Linked DNA regions of Homo sapiens. The protein of the gene in region 1 interacts with the protein of each later gene in a biochemical or structural test. Each region holds a gene or a part of one and is shown on either strand. Other genes may lie near its edges.

The links.
Region 2: the proteins of NSMCE1 (region 1) and MAGEF1 form a complex in vitro, tested with the Homo sapiens proteins (2 studies listed by BioGRID).

Annotation. Positions count from the first base shown.
Region 1 is NC_000016.10:27,251,111-27,259,595, forward strand, and holds part of NSMCE1 (non-structural maintenance of chromosomes element 1 homolog), read right to left. Parts: intron 6,472-8,485; 5' UTR 6,461-6,471; coding exon 6,325-6,460; intron 1-6,324. UniProt on the Homo sapiens protein: RING-type zinc finger-containing E3 ubiquitin ligase that assembles with melanoma antigen protein (MAGE) to catalyze the direct transfer of ubiquitin from E2 ubiquitin-conjugating enzyme to a specific substrate.
Region 2 is NC_000003.12:184,709,864-184,718,257, forward strand, and holds MAGEF1 (melanoma-associated antigen F1), read right to left. Parts: upstream 2,202-8,394; 5' UTR 1,959-2,201; coding exon 1,035-1,958; 3' UTR 501-1,034; downstream 1-500. UniProt on the Homo sapiens protein: Enhances ubiquitin ligase activity of RING-type zinc finger-containing E3 ubiquitin ligases. Proposed to act through recruitment and/or stabilization of the E2 ubiquitin-conjugating enzyme at the E3:substrate complex.

The DNA.
Region 1 (8,485 bases):
GATTACAGGCGTGAGCTACCGCGCCCAGCCTTAATTTTAATTATTTAAAATATATATATATATATATATATATATATATAAATATATATATATATATAAAACTCTGTAGAGTTCAGACTCCTCACTTGTGTTCTAAGTCTATTTATCCTATTTATCCCCTGCTACTTAGGATCCCTTAGCTTCCTATAAAAAACTTTCTGCTACATCACACCAGGGCAAACATGAGATTTTGTCAAATACTTTTTCTGTACCTATTGAGATAAACACAAGATTTTTCTTTTTTAGCTTAATATGGTGAATTACACTGATTTTCAAATATTAATACTAAATCAACCCTGCAAAATCAGGATAAACCCTACTTGGTTATGTCGTACCATCCTTTGTAAACACTGTTAGATTAGATTTGCCACAGTTGGGTTTAGCACGTTAACGTCTACGCTCATGAGGAGTCTTGTTTGGGGTTTTCTTTCCTCGCAATGTCTTTGTCTGGTTATGGTATCAGAATCATGCAGGTCTCATAGAATTAGTTGTAACATATTCTCTTCAATTTTACAGAAGAGTTTGGGTAGAAATGGTGTGAGTTCTTCCTCAAATGTTTGGGCCGGGCACTATTCCCAGTTCTGTGAATAGCTGGCATTGTTTTCTCTAATCCTTCAACTAGTTCTCTCCCTGGCCTTAAGAAGTTTTCTTGCTCATCAGTTCTCAGCGGGATCCTTGAGTGGAGGGGCACTTTGGACATCTCAAGTTTTCTCTCTGTGCACCTCTGGTCCACCTTATACTCCATTGTAAGTACTCCGTCCTGCAACCTCTACCTGCCTTAGTCTCCCTGAACTCTCATCTCCATCTCCTCAACGCAGGGAGGCTGCCTAGCTCTGCCTGGGTTTCCCCTGTGCCATGGCCTAGAAACTTTCTAAAGGCACTGAGCTGGGGCAGCTGTACTGCTCACTCCCACTATCGCTTGTGGCAGAAGAAAGTTACTTGGTCTTTCCCCCAGGTTCCTGGTACAGAACTTCTAAAACTCTTAGAATTCCCTGAGTCATATAGGTGATAGAAGCATCTTTTGCTCTAATGAGGCAACTCTTGGCAGGCCCCTAGGATGGGGGCTGGTCACCAGAATGACCAAGCCTCAATAAAAAACATGGAACTTTCAGCCACTCCCCAATATCTGAGGAGAAGAGAGGGACTGGAGATGGAAGCACTCGTCAACGGCCAGTGACTGATCAATCATGCCTGTGTAAAGAAACCTCCATAGAAACCCAGGAATGGCCAGGCACGGTGGCTAAATAAATATTTCAAATCATTTCTAATGGTGGATTCACAATTTTGTGGGATTATTTTTCTTAGAGTGTGCCAAATTCAATAATCAACAGGCCCTATAAAACCTGAAACTGGGCTGGGTGCAGTGGCTCACGCCTGAATCCCAACATTTTGGAAGGCTGACGCAGGATGATCACTTGAGCCTAGGTGTTCGAGACCAGCCTAGGCCACAGAAGAAGACCCCCGTCTCTACAAATAATTTAAAACTTAGCCGGGCGCGGTGGCTCATGCCTGTAATCCCAGCACTTGGGGAGGCGGAGGCAGGCGGATCACCTGAGGTCAGAAGTTCGAGACCAGCCTGGCCAACATGGTGAAACCCCATCTCTACTAAAACCACAAAAATTAGCCGGGTGTGGTGGCTCACGCCTGTAGTCCCAGCTACTCAGGCGGCTGAGGCAGGAGAATCGCTTGAACCTGGGAGGCAGAGGTTGCAGTGAGCCGAGATCTTGCCATTGCACTCCAGCCTGGGCGACAAGAGCAAAACTGTCTCAAAAAAAATAAAAATAAAAATAAAAAAGAAACCCTTGAACGACAGGATTTGAAGAGCTTCGGGTTATTAAACACACAGAGGCGTTGAGACGGTGGTGCAAGTAGAGAGGGCACGGAAACTCCATGCCACCCCCACTTCCCACAGCTGGCCCTGTGATCTCTCCTATGTGGCTGTTCCTGAGTTGTAGCCTTTATAAAAAAACCACGTAAGTCAAAATGTAAGTAAAGTGTTTTCCTGAGTTCTATGAATCATTCTAGAAAATTATCAAATCCAAAGAGGGAGTTATGGGAACCACTGATGTACAGCCATTGGTCAGAAACACAGGTAGCCCAGGACTTACAACTGGTGTCTTAAGTTGGGTCAGTCTTGTGACACTGAGCCCTTTAACTTGTAGGATTTGATGCTAACTCCAGGCAGATAGTGTCAGAATTAAACTGAATTATGGAATGCCCAGTTGTTATCTAGAGAACTGGAGTAGTGTTAGAAAAGATACCACATCAAGTGTCAAGAGAAAAAGAAACCCTCATTGCCCATCTCTCGAAAGATCACTGGCCTTGACTGACGAATGTCCAGTATTTTATACTTTGTCCATTTTTGAATTGTTTCAGGCAAGAAGGTGTACTGAGCCCTGTTGCTCCATACTGGCCAAAAGTGGAAAACCTCAAACCCAAGCCTTCTCCACCACCCCCGAGGCCTCCTGTGCCGACTTCTATCAAGGAGGCCTATATTGGAATCATCTGACCCCTTGTCTGTATGACTCATGAGAGCCATGGTAAAATAAAAATTCAATCTCTGAGTCACCAGTCCCTAGCACAGAGGCCTGGCTCACTTGAGATTCTAGGGAAGCTTTGCTGGTTGAATAAACGTATGTGTGGATGCAAGTCCTGGCTCAAAAATCTAAGGTCCTCTAAGAACACAGGTCCCTAGCGCCATTCCGAAAGGCTCGACCCAAGGCCTGCACTGAACTTGAGAACAAAATCTAAACTCTTCACTAGCCAGGAGAATTGGGGACTTTGTTTCCCCTTAACGACAGTAAGAAGAGAACCCAAACCAAAGCCTAGAATAAGAAGTGATTTGATAAACTGGACAAACACCCTGGGAAATGGCAATTAGAATAACTTGCAATTTCAATCACTCCTTTGTTTCATAATTTTCCTAGAAGCTAAATATTTTTCTATTTGGTACAAGGGGATTTTCCTGGCCATCTCTTCAAAAGATAGGAAATTAATAATATTGGGTCTTGCGAGTATTCACTTAAGTTTAGATAATTTCTGTCATTTCCTGTTTAAAATCTCCCTAATAACAAGAACATGCAGTAACAAGTTTTTTGGCATTTTTCTTAAATGAAGATAGGACAAAATAGATTGTTCTACCCTGTTCACCCTGGCCATAACCATATCTAGGTGCAAAGAAATGGTACACAGTGTGAAGAATAAATCAATTCCTAGACACATTCTACAGGACTTTCCTAAATTAGATCATAACAATTTTAAAGGTCAAATAAAGGCAAAAACACTTTCAGTCTTAGTACCAAGGCATCATGTGGCTCCTTGCAGTGAGCTGTGAAACTTCCCCACCAACATGAAAGCTTACAGTCAAGACTCACAGGAGAAAAAAAGAGAAAAGGACTAAATTGTCGTGTAAATAAGAGATTCAGGATTAACACAAGCATTCTTTTATTTTTTTGAGATGGGGGTTCACTGTGTTGCCCAGGCTGGAGTGCAGTGGTGCAACCTCAGCTCACTGCAACCCCCACCTCCCCTGCTCAAGCGATCCTCCTGCCTCAGCTTCCTGGGTAGCTAGGACCATAGGTGTGTGCCAGCACACCTGGCTAATTTTTTGTACTTTTGGTAGAGACTGGGTTTCACCATGTTGCTCAGGCTGAAGACAAGCGTTCTTATGCACATTTCTGGAGGATATTGAGGGGTAGGTTTAAAGTCCAACCATGCTTTTTTTTTTTTTTTTTTTTTTTTTTTTTTTGATACATGGTCTCGCTCTGTCGCCCAAGCTGGAGTGCAGGGGCAGGATCTCAGCTCACTGCAGCATCTGCCTCCCAGGTTCAAGCAATTATCCTGCCTCAGCCTCCCAAGTAGCTGGGACTACAGGCATGCACCACCACACCCGGCTAATTTTTGTATTTTTAGTAGAGATGGAGTTTCACCATGTTGACCAGGCTGGTCTTGAACTCCTGACCTCAGGTGACCCACCCTCCTCAGCCTCCCAAAGTGCTGGGATTACAGGTGTGAGCCACCACACCCAGCCGCTACTATGCTTTTTAAAGAGCAAGAGAAACTAGCTTAACAGGTATAACATCCCCTTTCAATACAAAAGTCTCTCACCAAAGATCCTTCTCTGCTGGTACAACTGCGGCGCATCTACCTTCACCACGGAGATGGTTCTCAAACCTAAAACTGTCTCTCTCACTCTCTGCTTTGAATACTTCAAGAGGGCCACACTGTCCGCAGAAGTAAAAAGCCATTACTATGGTGTATAGGGTTCTTCATGATCTGCAAACCTACACACGAAAAGAATGTATTCTCTTCCCACACATCATATATTCTTGTCTAGGGATTCCCAGGGTAGGTTATCAGTAGGTCAATTAGGTTTGGATACACAGAATTAAACACAGTTCAACAGGCTAACTTGTTCCTGGCATTACTGAGCTCCCAGAATTCCCCATGGAACACCTCCATGGACCAGTGCTCTGGAGAACGCAGATGCTACTCTCCAGACACTTCAAACTGCTTCTTCTCCGTCTAACACGCCACCTTCTTTTATTCCTCCTTCCTTTGCACACCTTGAAAGAATATTCGTTTCTGTTCTGTCTCCCTCTTCTTATTCCCATTCACTGCTCACCTCTCTGGGATCAGGCTTTGAACTCTAACATGCTGCAGAAACTGCAGTGCTCCAAATGTGACACCTACCTTTTCTCGTGTCCCTTCACATTTTGAAAAGTATAAAATGATCTTCATCACTTTTGAATGCATTTGCATGCAAAGGCATAAAAGTGGCTGGGAAGAAGATGTAATGCACTCATGAAGTGTTTGCCTTTGGGGACAGGAGGGACACCCTTTCTGGTGTCCCTTCGCCCTTTCACAGCTCACTGCAAGGAGCTACAGGATGCCTGTGGACTAAGAATGAAAGCATCTTTTTGCCTTTTTTTTGTGTCCCTTCACCTGTGTACTTGCTCCCTGTGTACCTGTACACGCCCTTTCTCATACCTCTTGGCTTGGCTCACTTCTATGTCATTTTTTATCTTTTTCTTTTGAAAATTAAAAATACAGAGAGAAAGGCAGAATAAGGCAGAATAAAAACCAAACGCCTGCATTCCCATTCATCAGAGGTGACAACCAGTAGACTACACTAATTAATGTCATGTTGTTAGGCTAATAATGTCACGTTGGCTTCAAGACTTTTCTTTTTAATAAAAGAACATAACAGGATAAAAGTGAAGGGTCCTGTGATCTCTGCTGACAGCCCACTCCCACTCTGCTTCTCCTCACAAGCACCTCACAAGTGTCCTGCGTCTTCTTCTGGTCCACTTTTATACCTTTACATGCAAATGCATTCATAACCAATGAAAACGATTTTGTACTTCACAAAAAAACAACATAATCACATCATACAATTACTCATCCATCACCTTTGTCACTGCATAAAATCTAATCAGTAAGATCTACCCATATTGGCACACAACTCAACAATATCTGCCAATGCTAATTCGACTGATCTATCAACACTGATCCTACTGTTTCTTCCACCATCTCCAGTTACTTAGAACTTAGCACCATGTCCTGTCTCCAAGGGCTTCTTATTTGCCCCTCCCAGTGGCCCCGTAAGATGCCCCAAATGCCTTCAGCTGACACAGGGCAGGGACACACTCTTCAGGTCCGGCCCAGTCTAAGGCTGTGCCCTTAAGTGTTGTGCTAAGCTCCCCCATTTTTTTGTTTTATAATTTATTTTCTTTTTTTCAAATAAAAAAATAGAGAGGGTCTTGCTACATTGCCCAGGCTGGTCCCAAACTCCTGGCCTCAAGCTATCCTCCCACCTTGATTCCCAGAGTGCAGGGATAACAGCGTGAGCCACCGCACCCAGCCAAGCTGCCCTGTGTCCATCAATACCCCACTAGGCACTGTCTCTGCGCCACTGTCTTGTACATATCATGTCTCTCAATTCCCTGAACCATGCACTTACTTATGTGTTAAGTACAATTACTATCCTCACTTTACAGATACAGAAACTGAGGCTGGGGCAGGTCCTGGAGGCTTGGTGTGAACCACAACTATACAGCTTTAGACTCTAAGTTTTTATCCACAGGGCTAAATGTCAGGTTTACTTGGAAAAAAAATAAAAGTGGAAGATGAAATTAGAAAGATGGGCCCGTGTAAGATTGTGAAGAGGCTTGAATGCTCAGCTCAGGAGTACCGGTTAACAAGTTACATGGTATTGTACCTATGTCACTGGTCCCTGATCAACACAGCACCAGAGCGCCCTGGGAACAGGGAAACGGTACTCACGGTCATGGACCTTGTAGCAGTGCGTCTGCAAGCGCTTCACGTCCCATTCCTCTAGCACGCCATGGGTCATCAGCAACTGGAGGAAGCGCCGGTGGACATCAGTCATGACGCCCATTCTCCTTGTGCTGCCCTGCATGTGGGAACGAACTGAAAAGGAAGTAAATGACACTAGTCAACCCCAAGCACATCAGAAGCAACGTCCTGGGTCTTGTACTAATTTACATTAACAAATATAAATTTGCTATCATTTTTAAAAGTCATTCTTCATGCTGTTTACTACAAAGGTGAGAAGAAGAACACGAGTCACAGCATCAGGACTGGGCAGTGGTAAGAGGTGTGGATTCTGGAGCTAGAATGCCGGGATTCAGGGCCTGGCTCTCCCACTTACTAGGCGTGTGAGATTGAGCAACTTAGTCCCCACAGGCTTTGGTTTCTGATCTGTAAAGTGGGACTAATGATAGAAACGTCCTCTGCAGAACTGCTACGAAGATTAGATGGGTTAATACATGTAATAGCCTGGTAACACAGTAAGCACTAAATAAGTCTGAGCTATTTTTACTATCAGGCAATTCTGGGTCTAACCCTTGGCTGAGCCTTTTTACCAGATCTATGGCCTTGGAGAAATTGAGCAGAGGCCCCGTTTTCTCACCATAAAATTATAATGAAGTTCATTACTGAGAGAACTACTAGTAAACACTTAATAAATGTTAGTTTCCTCCTCTCCCCAAACCACTAATAAAACAACTATCATGGCAGGACTTCAGACTATTTTCGAAATCTCCTGCTCACTAACAAAATGGGATCTTTCCGTAAACCACAAAGATCACAGTTAATAAAACTATTCCACAAGCCCTGATCAAAACGCTGGCTACTGCCATGGAGCACGCAGTGCAGGGGCTAAGAATGTGAATTTGGAACTAAACAGGAAGCACTGAGACCAGAAAGTCCCAGATCTGCCTGATCCTAAGGATTTCCTAATGTGCATTTTAACAATACAGATTCCCAAACCCTTTCCTGGATGTTCTGACTGCAATGGGTCCTGGAATTCTGAGGTGTTTACATTCATTTTAGGTGATGTCAAGATCTGACAAGAAAGAAGTTCACTGGTGCCTTGGGCAAATACAGCAGGCAAACATTTTTAGCTAACAATGCTCAGCCTCCCTAAGGCCTAGTCTCTTCACCTCTAAAACTGGGAAACTAGTAGCTACCTTAAAGACATAGAGGAAGCCTAAATGAGTCACAACTACCAAAGGCTTGCCAAGCACCTGGCACATAAGAGATCCACAAGACTGCTAATTACTGCTCTTTTGTTCTTTTTTTTTTCTTTTTTTTCTGAGATGGAGTCTCACTCTGTTGCCCAGGCTGGAGTGCAGTGGCGTGATCTCGGCTCACTACAACCTCTGCCTCCCGGGTTCCAGTGATTCTCCTGGCTCAGCCTCCCAAGTAGCTGGAACTACAGGCGCCCACCACCGTGCCTGACTAATTTTCGTATTTTTAGTAGAGACGGGTTTCACCATGTTGGCCAGGCTGGCCTCGAACTCCTGACCTCAGGCGATCCACCTGCCTCAGCCTCCCAAAGTGGTGGGATTACAGTGTGAGCCACCACGCCCAGCCAGTGCTGTTCTTTAACAGCATCCTCAACTGGACCTCAGGGCTGGGAAAATGCGCCATCTCATAACCAGTCCCTCCAACTGCCTGCTAGAAAAATATCCTCCATCTCACCAAATCTGCACCTCAACAAAGCCTACGTTAGACTCATCCTCTCCTTCCACCTCCTTAGCCCCTTTCCTCTCCCAAGTCCTTCTCTTTGCAAATCATCTGGTGTGGACGGTGCAGTCCACACAATCATACCACACACCTGAGCATCGAACTCTGGTCCTCCTCTCCTTAAACCTCAAATCCAGCCTGTCATCAACTTTATTTCCTATCACTAGGGCCATTCCATGTCGATGTACTTAGCACCCCCGTATTTGCCAGTGGTTGTTCTGGGCACAGGGTTAGAATGTGCTAGGCTAAAAACAATGGACTTCTATCCTGCAAATGAAGGATCTCTACAAACTAAGGGTCTTGAAGCAGGAACATGGTGTTGCCTAGCTGTGTTTTAGGGAGATTATCCTCTTTGGCATCATGGAGGTGTAGAGGAAAGAAATGGGAGGCAAAG
Region 2 (8,394 bases), on another chromosome or scaffold:
GTCTGCTCACATTACTGAGGAGTAGCTGTGATCTGAAATCATTATTTTTATTTCTTATTTTTTTCTGAGACGGGGTCTTGCTCTGTCTCCCAAGCTGGAGTGCAGTGGTATGATCTCGGCTCACTGCAACCTCCGTCTCCTAGATTCAAGAGATTCTTGTGCCTTGGCCTCCCAAGTAGCTGGGATTACAGGTGTGTGCCACCACGCCTGGTTAATTTTTGTAATTTTAGTAGAAACAGGGTTTCACCATGTTGGCCAGGCTGGTCTTGAACTCCTGACTCCGGTGATCAGTCCGCCTCGGCCTCCCAAAGTGCTGGGATTACAGCAAACCTCACTCAATCATCCCAGCTGGGTTAAGTATCCCTTTGTAGACTTCAACTCATTGCACTGCTAATTTCTTGTTTATTTACTTACTCTTCAATTCTGAAAAAAAGTAGGACCTTTATCTTGTTTAGTATTCTATCCCCAAGTGCCCACACAGTGCATCACAGAAAACAAGATGCTCCACAAATGTTTAATTTATTAAGTGTGCCAGGGTATACTGCTAACTCATTGCATTTTAATTTTTCTCTAGATACTCAAATAGCTAAGCAAATGAAGGTACATGCCAGTCTTTCTTCTTTTATACACAACAGACAAAAGTGTTGGGGGGCTAGACACCAACCAGCTATTTTTTTCCCCTGGAACCAGATCATCATACTGCTGAGTTCCTTCAAACCATCAAAGTACAGCCTTCCTTCCAATGTTGCATAATCTGTTCAAAATCACAGTATAAATACAAAGTTCTTCCATCCATTTTACAAAACCAGCAAAACTCTACAATAAAATCCTACAGGAAAAAGTAGACCAATCTCATTTACAAACAGCATTTTAACAGTAATTATTAAATGTTACAAAACATAAGATACAAAATCTAAATCCTTAAAGTCACACGATTTCTACAGAAATAAGACCCTCGCCCCACCCATATTACTTATGACTCAGGACAGTAGTTCGTCCTCACGGGGACCCACTGGCCAACTTTTCACCAACCCTCACCAGAGGTGGATGCCGGCCCTAGCACTGGCCCTGGCCCTCATACTGGCTTCAGCTCTGGCCTTGGCTCTGGCCCTGTCGGCCTCGTCTGCTAGGGCCTCACGGTACTGCACTGGCCAGTGCTGCGGTTCCTTCTTATGCAGTTTGGCCACGAACCCCAGGACTTCCATCTTGCTGATTTCCAGGTTGCTTCGGGGACCCCAAGAGAATTCATATTCTGGTGGATTGGTGTGAGGCACCCGCCTGTAACTGAGATATCGCTGCTGCACAAAATCTTCCATAATAAGCCTCTTCGGATACCCAAAGAGGAAATGATACTTTGAGGGTTGCACCCCCAACCGACGCAGCATCTCCCAGACCTGGGCCTCCCTGGCGCTATTACCTCTCATATAGATAAGGCCCAGGATCATCATTAACAGACCCAATCTGGGGCCATCTCCTCCCAGATCCTCCTCCTCCTCCTCCTCCAGAGGTTTTAGTTTGTTGATCAGGATGTAAGTGTGGTGCTTGCGGTCAAACTGTTTCAGCTCAAAACCAAAGACATACCGCAGATGCTCTGCGGCCCTTGCGATGATGTCCGGGAACAGAATCTTCAAGTCTCCAATAACGTATTTCACCATCTCCGAGCGTGTGATGGGACTCTTCTTCTTGTCTTTCACCAGGAGGAACTGCACCAACTCCGCCACCGTCCGATTCAGCCGGCGGTAGGCCCTGCGCCTTGCCAAGGCTTTGGCCGCCAAGGCCCTCGCGCCTTTCCGGGTGAGGGCGGGCTCCGCAGCCCCCTCCTCCCTCCCGGCGCCAAGCTCCTCCTTGGGGCGCTCCTGCGAGGCGGTCGGGGCCCGGGTCTCACCATCATGGCCGCCATCCTTCTCCCCCTCGGCCTGCGGGACCGGGAGCCCCCTGCTCTCTGGTGTCTGCAACATGTTTTCGGGCAGGCAGGTGCAGAGCGCGTACACGGGCCGAGGGGTGTGGGAGCCGCCGCGCAAGCCCCGGGGGAGGGGTTGGACAGCGGCAGTGACGGCGGGAGTACAAGGAGCAATGGCAGCGGGAGCTTTGTGGCTGCTGGGCCGCACCGCACGGGAGTCAAACCTGCGGCCGCAACGCCGCCAGCAGCCGGAACCTGCGGCGCGCAGCCTCAGTCCGCGCCCGCGCGAGGGGCCACTTCCGGCCACCTCAGCCAGGACGGCGACCCTAGTGCCGCGCGCAGCCCCTCCTTTTCCGGTCCCTTCTGGGTTGGGGGTGTGCCCAGGCTGCTATAAGTGGAAATGCCCTGGAGGGTGGGGACGGGGGTGCGCCCTGTGACGGATTTTAGGCTTGAAAAGTCGGGGGCGGGGGAATGTAACCAGGACTCTCCCATCCAAGGCATGCAGACTGGGGAATGTTTCGGTGTACAAGAGATGAAATAGGGATGGAGTGCCCCCCACGTTCTTTCTGCAAGTGCCTATTTGTGAGTGTGTGTATCTGGGATTTTCAGTGCTTTACCGGGGCTCTTGTGCAGAGTGCACGGTGAAGGCTGCGAGGTAAGACTGTGCGAACCAATTAGTAAAGGATGCTAGGGAGACTGAAATTTATTCTGGACGTAAAGAGAAAATACTGCAGCGGGATTTAAGCAAGTGAGTGTCCAGACCAGATCTGTGTCTTCGGTTCTGGCGGTATTGTGGAAGATAGATTGGAGTTCGGCCGGCTAAAAGCTAGAATCCAGTTTGGAGGATTATTATAGTGCAAACTAGGAACTGGGACCCGGCCTATTTACTGGGTTGTATCCTCGGTGCCTAGAGCAGTGCCTGACACGGAGAGGAACTCAATAAATATTCAATGGATCATTATGATGAGGGAGTAAGGACAGCAGATTCCATGGGGATAAGAGGAAAATACTGAGAAGTACAGCAGGAATAGGGACTGGTTGGAAGAAAGGGGAAGTTTGTTCTTTTTTTTTTTTTTTTTTGCGCAAGTCAAATTTGACTACTCCCATGTATTTCTTTTCTTTTTCTCTTTTTACACACTCTGAGCTTTCTTCTGCTTCTTGCTCCTTCCTTCCTTCTTTCCTTCCCTCCTTCCTTCCTTCCTCCCTCCCTTCCCTCCTTCCCTTCCTGCCTTCCTTCCTTCCTTCTTTCCTTCCTTCCTTCCTTCCTTCTTTCCTTCCTTCCTTCCTTCCTTCTTCCCTCCCTCCCTCCCTTCCTTCCCTGTCAGAAATGCCCTCTCTATCACCTCCATTTCTCCAAATCCTGTCCACTATTCAGGGCCCAGTTTAAACATCACCTTCCCAAGCCTTCCTTAGTCACCACGCATAGAAGTTATTTACTGTCATCTCTGAATCACCTTAGCAATTGTTAACATCCACATATATAGGCTTTATTAGGTGCCAGGCTCCGTTCTAATCACTTTTCAAATATTAATTCATCAGATTCTCACTAATGTAGGTACTAATACCATCATCCCCATTTTATAGATGATTGTATCTTTTCTGTGACACAGTTTGCTACTTACTAGCTATGTAATCTTGGGCAAGTTACCTAAACTTCTGCCCTTCTGTTACCTTATCAGTAAAATGAGTATAATAGTAGTAACAGCATTGTGGAGATTATGTGAAGTAATGCACATAAGCATTTAACACAGTGCTTGGCACATATTGATATTCAATACATGTTAGCTGTTAATTAATGCATATTTTTATATGCAATATACAATATTAGAATTGCAAGATGAACTGTCCTGGAATGCCTAGCACTCTGTGGAGATGCGGAGGAGGTGTCCTGGGACATAGCACTGAACCGGGTCAGTACTCACCCATTCTGTGACCTTGTACAGGATGCTCAAACACCCTGGGCCACTTTTTTCTGATACTGTAGCCCTGCTAGGTAAGTGGTATTAGCCCCATTTTCCAGGTGAGGTTACACACAAGGAGGTTAAGTAACTTGCCCAACATCACACAGCTGGGATGTGAACCCATATAGTATGACTCCAGAGACTGTGCTCTTAACCACTACATTCATAGATGTTAATTATTATTATTATCATTTACTATATTTTGTATTATAATTTGTTGTGCTTATCTTATTACCCTCCCCAAACCAAACATCCTAAAAGCTAGGGCTATGTTTTTAACTCTTTTGAAGAGCTTCTCTTAGTCAATACTCGATATATAATTGCCAATGAATAAATGACAGAAGGCTTTACTTTTTTCCCTAGGAAATAACAGTTACTTATTTTAAGTAAATATCTGATAGACTTTTCTAAATCTAAATATGAAATCTTCCTTTTAAAAACTTTTGAAAATTTATACCCACTTGTATCATATGACTTACAAACCTGGAAGTATGTGAATGAAGCAGGAGAGGATGTTTATTATAGCCTAGCTTGAGGCTATTATTAGTTTTCATTGTGCCAAACATTCTATGTACAATATAATTTTGTCCTCACAAATCCCTATTAAGAAGGTATTATTATCCACATTTACAAATGGGAAAACAGTCACAGAGAGGTTAAATCACCTGCCCTGAACCACCCATCTGTTAAGTGCTAGACAAGAAATGAAAACCCAGATCTGTAAACTCTGAAGCAAGACTGCCTGGTTATCTGTTTTTCCTGAAGGTAGAGAGAGCCACCCATACCTAAAAGGACAGTGCTAGAGATAAAATAGTCCACTTACATATTTTCCTCACTACAAGGATTGCCAGGGAGATATGCAGGAGATACATGCACGGAAAGGAGCATGCAGAAGATATATTAAATGAAAAGAATTTTGAGGGACAAATCTGTGGTAATAGGGCTGGATTTTAAGAACTGAATAAATGACGATACTACTCATAAGAAGGAACAAACTACTGACACAATGTGAATGAGTCTGGCAGATATGTTGAGTGACAGATGAAAGATACAAAAGATTATACGTATAATATGATTCCATTTATCTGATGTTCGAGGCAGGATAAGCTAATCTATGGTGATAGAAATTAGGACAGTGGAGGCCTGGGGTGGTGTTGACTGGAAAGGGGTATCCAGGAACTTTCAGTGGTGATGGCAACGTTCTGTGTCTTGATTTGGATGTAGGTATACATTTGTCAAAACTTGTGAAACTGTACGCTTAATAGCTATGCATTTCTTTTCTTTTCTTTTCTTTTCTTTGCGACAGGGTCTCACTCTGTTACCCAGGCTGGAGTGGTGCAATGGCACAATCTCAGCTCACTGCAACCCCTGCCACTGCAACCCTTGCCTCCAGGTTCAAGTGCTTCTCTTGCCTCAGCCTTCCAAGTAGCTGGGATTACAGGCACCTGCCACCACACCTGGCTGATTTTTGTATTTTTAACAGAGACGGGGTTTCACCATGTTGGCCAAGCTGGTCTCAAACTCCTGACCTCAAGTGATCTGCCTGCCTCAGCCTCCCAAAATGCTGGGATTACAGGTGTAAGCCACCATGCCCAGCCAGGTATGCATTTCATAGTGTATGAATCATACCTCAAAATTTATAAAAATAAAAAAGGATTTTAAAAAATGAACAGCCCTTTAGGTATGGGAGGAGGCGAGGAGTAAGAAAGGTGAATGGACTCTGCATTACCACTTGCCGATCGCTAGATGTTACCATGTTACAGTGGAAGGAATGCAAACAATAATTTTTCCCATTTTTTTTTTTGTTATGTCCACCATGTAACCGGACACACAGAATTTTTTTTTTTTTTTTTTTTTTTTTTTGAGACGAAGTCTCACTCTGTCGCCCAGGCTGGAGTGCAGTGGCGCATCTCGGCTCACTGCAAGCTCCGTCTCCCACGTTCACGCCATTCTCCTGCCTCAGCCTCCCGAGTAGCTGGGACTACAGGCGTCTGCCACCATGCAGCTAATTTTTTGTATTTTTTTTTTTAGTAGAGATGGGGTTTCACCGTGTTAGCCAGGATGGTCACGATCTCCTGACCTCGTGATCCGCCTGCCTCGGCCTCCCAAAGTGCTGGGATTACCGGCATGAGCCACCATTTCCGGCAACAGGCAGACTTTTAACACATTCCTTACCTAAACTTTTAAAAGGGACAAAAGATATATGCCTTTGGTTTGGGAGATGACGAAACATATGCTTTAATGACTATTGGGTTGGAATCTTCTTGAGAGAGGATCCTTCTTAGCCTAGACTAGAGTCTTCAAAAGCCCACAGTGCTTCGTAAAGTTTCATACGTGGAAGAGAGAAGGATGTTCCACTGGAAAAGCAGAATTGCAGCTGAGCTGTCCTGAAATGCCCAGCACTCTGTGGAGACGCGGAGGAGGTTTCCTGGGACAAAGTGCTGAACCAGGTCAGTACTCGCCCATTCTGTGACCTTGCACAGGGTGCTGAACCTCTCTGAGCCACCTTTTCCTCATCTTTAGGCCCCAACAACCCTTGCTTTGCCCATCCTTACAGAGTTATTTTGAAGTTCAATCAAGATTATACATGTAAATATGCGTTTAAAGTGCTCCACCATTAAGAAATAAATATAAAATGTTACAGACCCTTTTCTAAAAGAGATATGGTGGAAAAATCCCAGTAATGAGGGTGACTGGCCTCTTAGACAGACATTTCGGAATAGCTTACACATTCCTCATTGAAAAAACTGTCTGGCCAAAAAAGATTAAATAAAGAAATGTCAAGTACTGACACTCCATTTGAGGCCAGTGAATACTTTGGTGCAGAGCCAGGGTTATCTTGTTGGATTCCTTCTAAACTTGGCAATAGAGTCCTCCAAACTCTTGAATGCCTTCTTCACACAGGTGCTCAGTAACATGTCACCCCAGATCTGATGGTCTCCAGGCTGCGTGGGTGCTTGTGTCTTCCCTATTTCTCCTGACAGTCTTGACAGCCGTGCAGCTGATCTGGCTCCAAACAGGGATCAGAGGAAGAGCTCTGTCCCTATCCCTAGGCCGGGACAAATTGAAGCTGGTTTTGTCAGAGCAGAATGGGCAGAGTGTGAGGCTTTGGGTCCCGTCTATGGGGCTGGGATTGAGGCAGGATGGCCAGGCGAATGATTCGATCTGACTTGGGTAATGAAAATTGTTTGTTACTTTTTGAAGAGTAATTGTGTAAGCAACAGTACTTCTGTGTTTGGCTGCCAGTGACTCACCAGTGTCTGTAATATAACACCAAACCCAGAGGAGGAGCAGACCCTGGCCAGCGGGGGAGGGGGAATGGCAGGGGGCAGAGGGCCCCCTACTCATTCATCCCCTTCTCCCTCTTCCACTGTCCCACCCCCTCTCTAAACCTCGAAGGAGAGTTGGCGAGAAGGCATTTGCCACCTGGACACAATGAGGCCCAGTGCAAGGGGCGGGCGAGAGCCTGGCCAGGAGCCAGGGCCCTGGTCTGAATGGCTGTTGCCAAGGGGCTGCCAACAGCCCATCTCAATCCCCAAGAGGCTGGGCAAGGGCGGGGGGCCCAACCCCCACCTCGAAGGCCCACCTCACGCCATTCGCAGGCCGTGATCAGAATGTGCAGGACGCAGGGGCTTTGAGCGGCTGAACAGAGCCGTTTCCCCTCTGCTGGCCGCCAGTTTGCTTGGATTACAGCGGCCTCTCTGGAGCCCCTTTGTGGGCTGCTTGTTATTCCGCACGCACAGAGCACTGTGCATTCATCTTTATTAGTTCTAATTGCTTCCCCATTCTAATGGGATCTTGATATTCCCATACAATTGAAAGGAAATGTATTCATTAAAATAATTCTTCTCCTAACTGCCGCTTCAAGCTGCTCCTCTAAGTGACATTGTCTCTCTAACCACAGCCTGCTGAGGCCTCTTATTAAGACTCTAGTCAAAAGCCAACTTTGGGCAGCAAACTTTCCTTGCAGGAGTTTCCAGACACTGAAGAGAGGGTGCTTTTTAATCGGCTCACACACAGAAGTTGGAGGCCAGCTGGTGTAATTGGGGGTGCTGCTCCGGGTGGATGGAGGGAGAAGGGCTCGCCTCCAGCTCTGCCTCCTTTAACAATGACCCCTTTCTGCACACCAACCAGCTCATTTGGAGAGGGCTTCTCCCTCTGTCATGTGTGTGAAACTTCTTGTTTATGCCACAAGCAGTTACTAGGTGTGTTTTAAGCACAAGGCGCTGAGTAAGGTGCTATGGGAAGTGTGGAGACAGGGCTGCAGATTCAAGGCGTTTATGATCTTGGTGGGTGGCTCCCAACTCCAAGTCCCTAGAGTTAGGTATGAGAGGAAAGGCTGGCAGCGCTCTCAATGTTCAGAAAGCTTACTAGGATCAAGAACTGAGAAAAGCAGGCTATTATTTCATAAATGTGTTTGATTTAATAACCAAAATCTTTCAAGCTGTGGGACCATGGGGGTAATACAAGAAGCTTTTTGGGACATTGGGAACCACTGATCTAGTTAGGGGAAATAAGCTGTTGTAAAAAGAA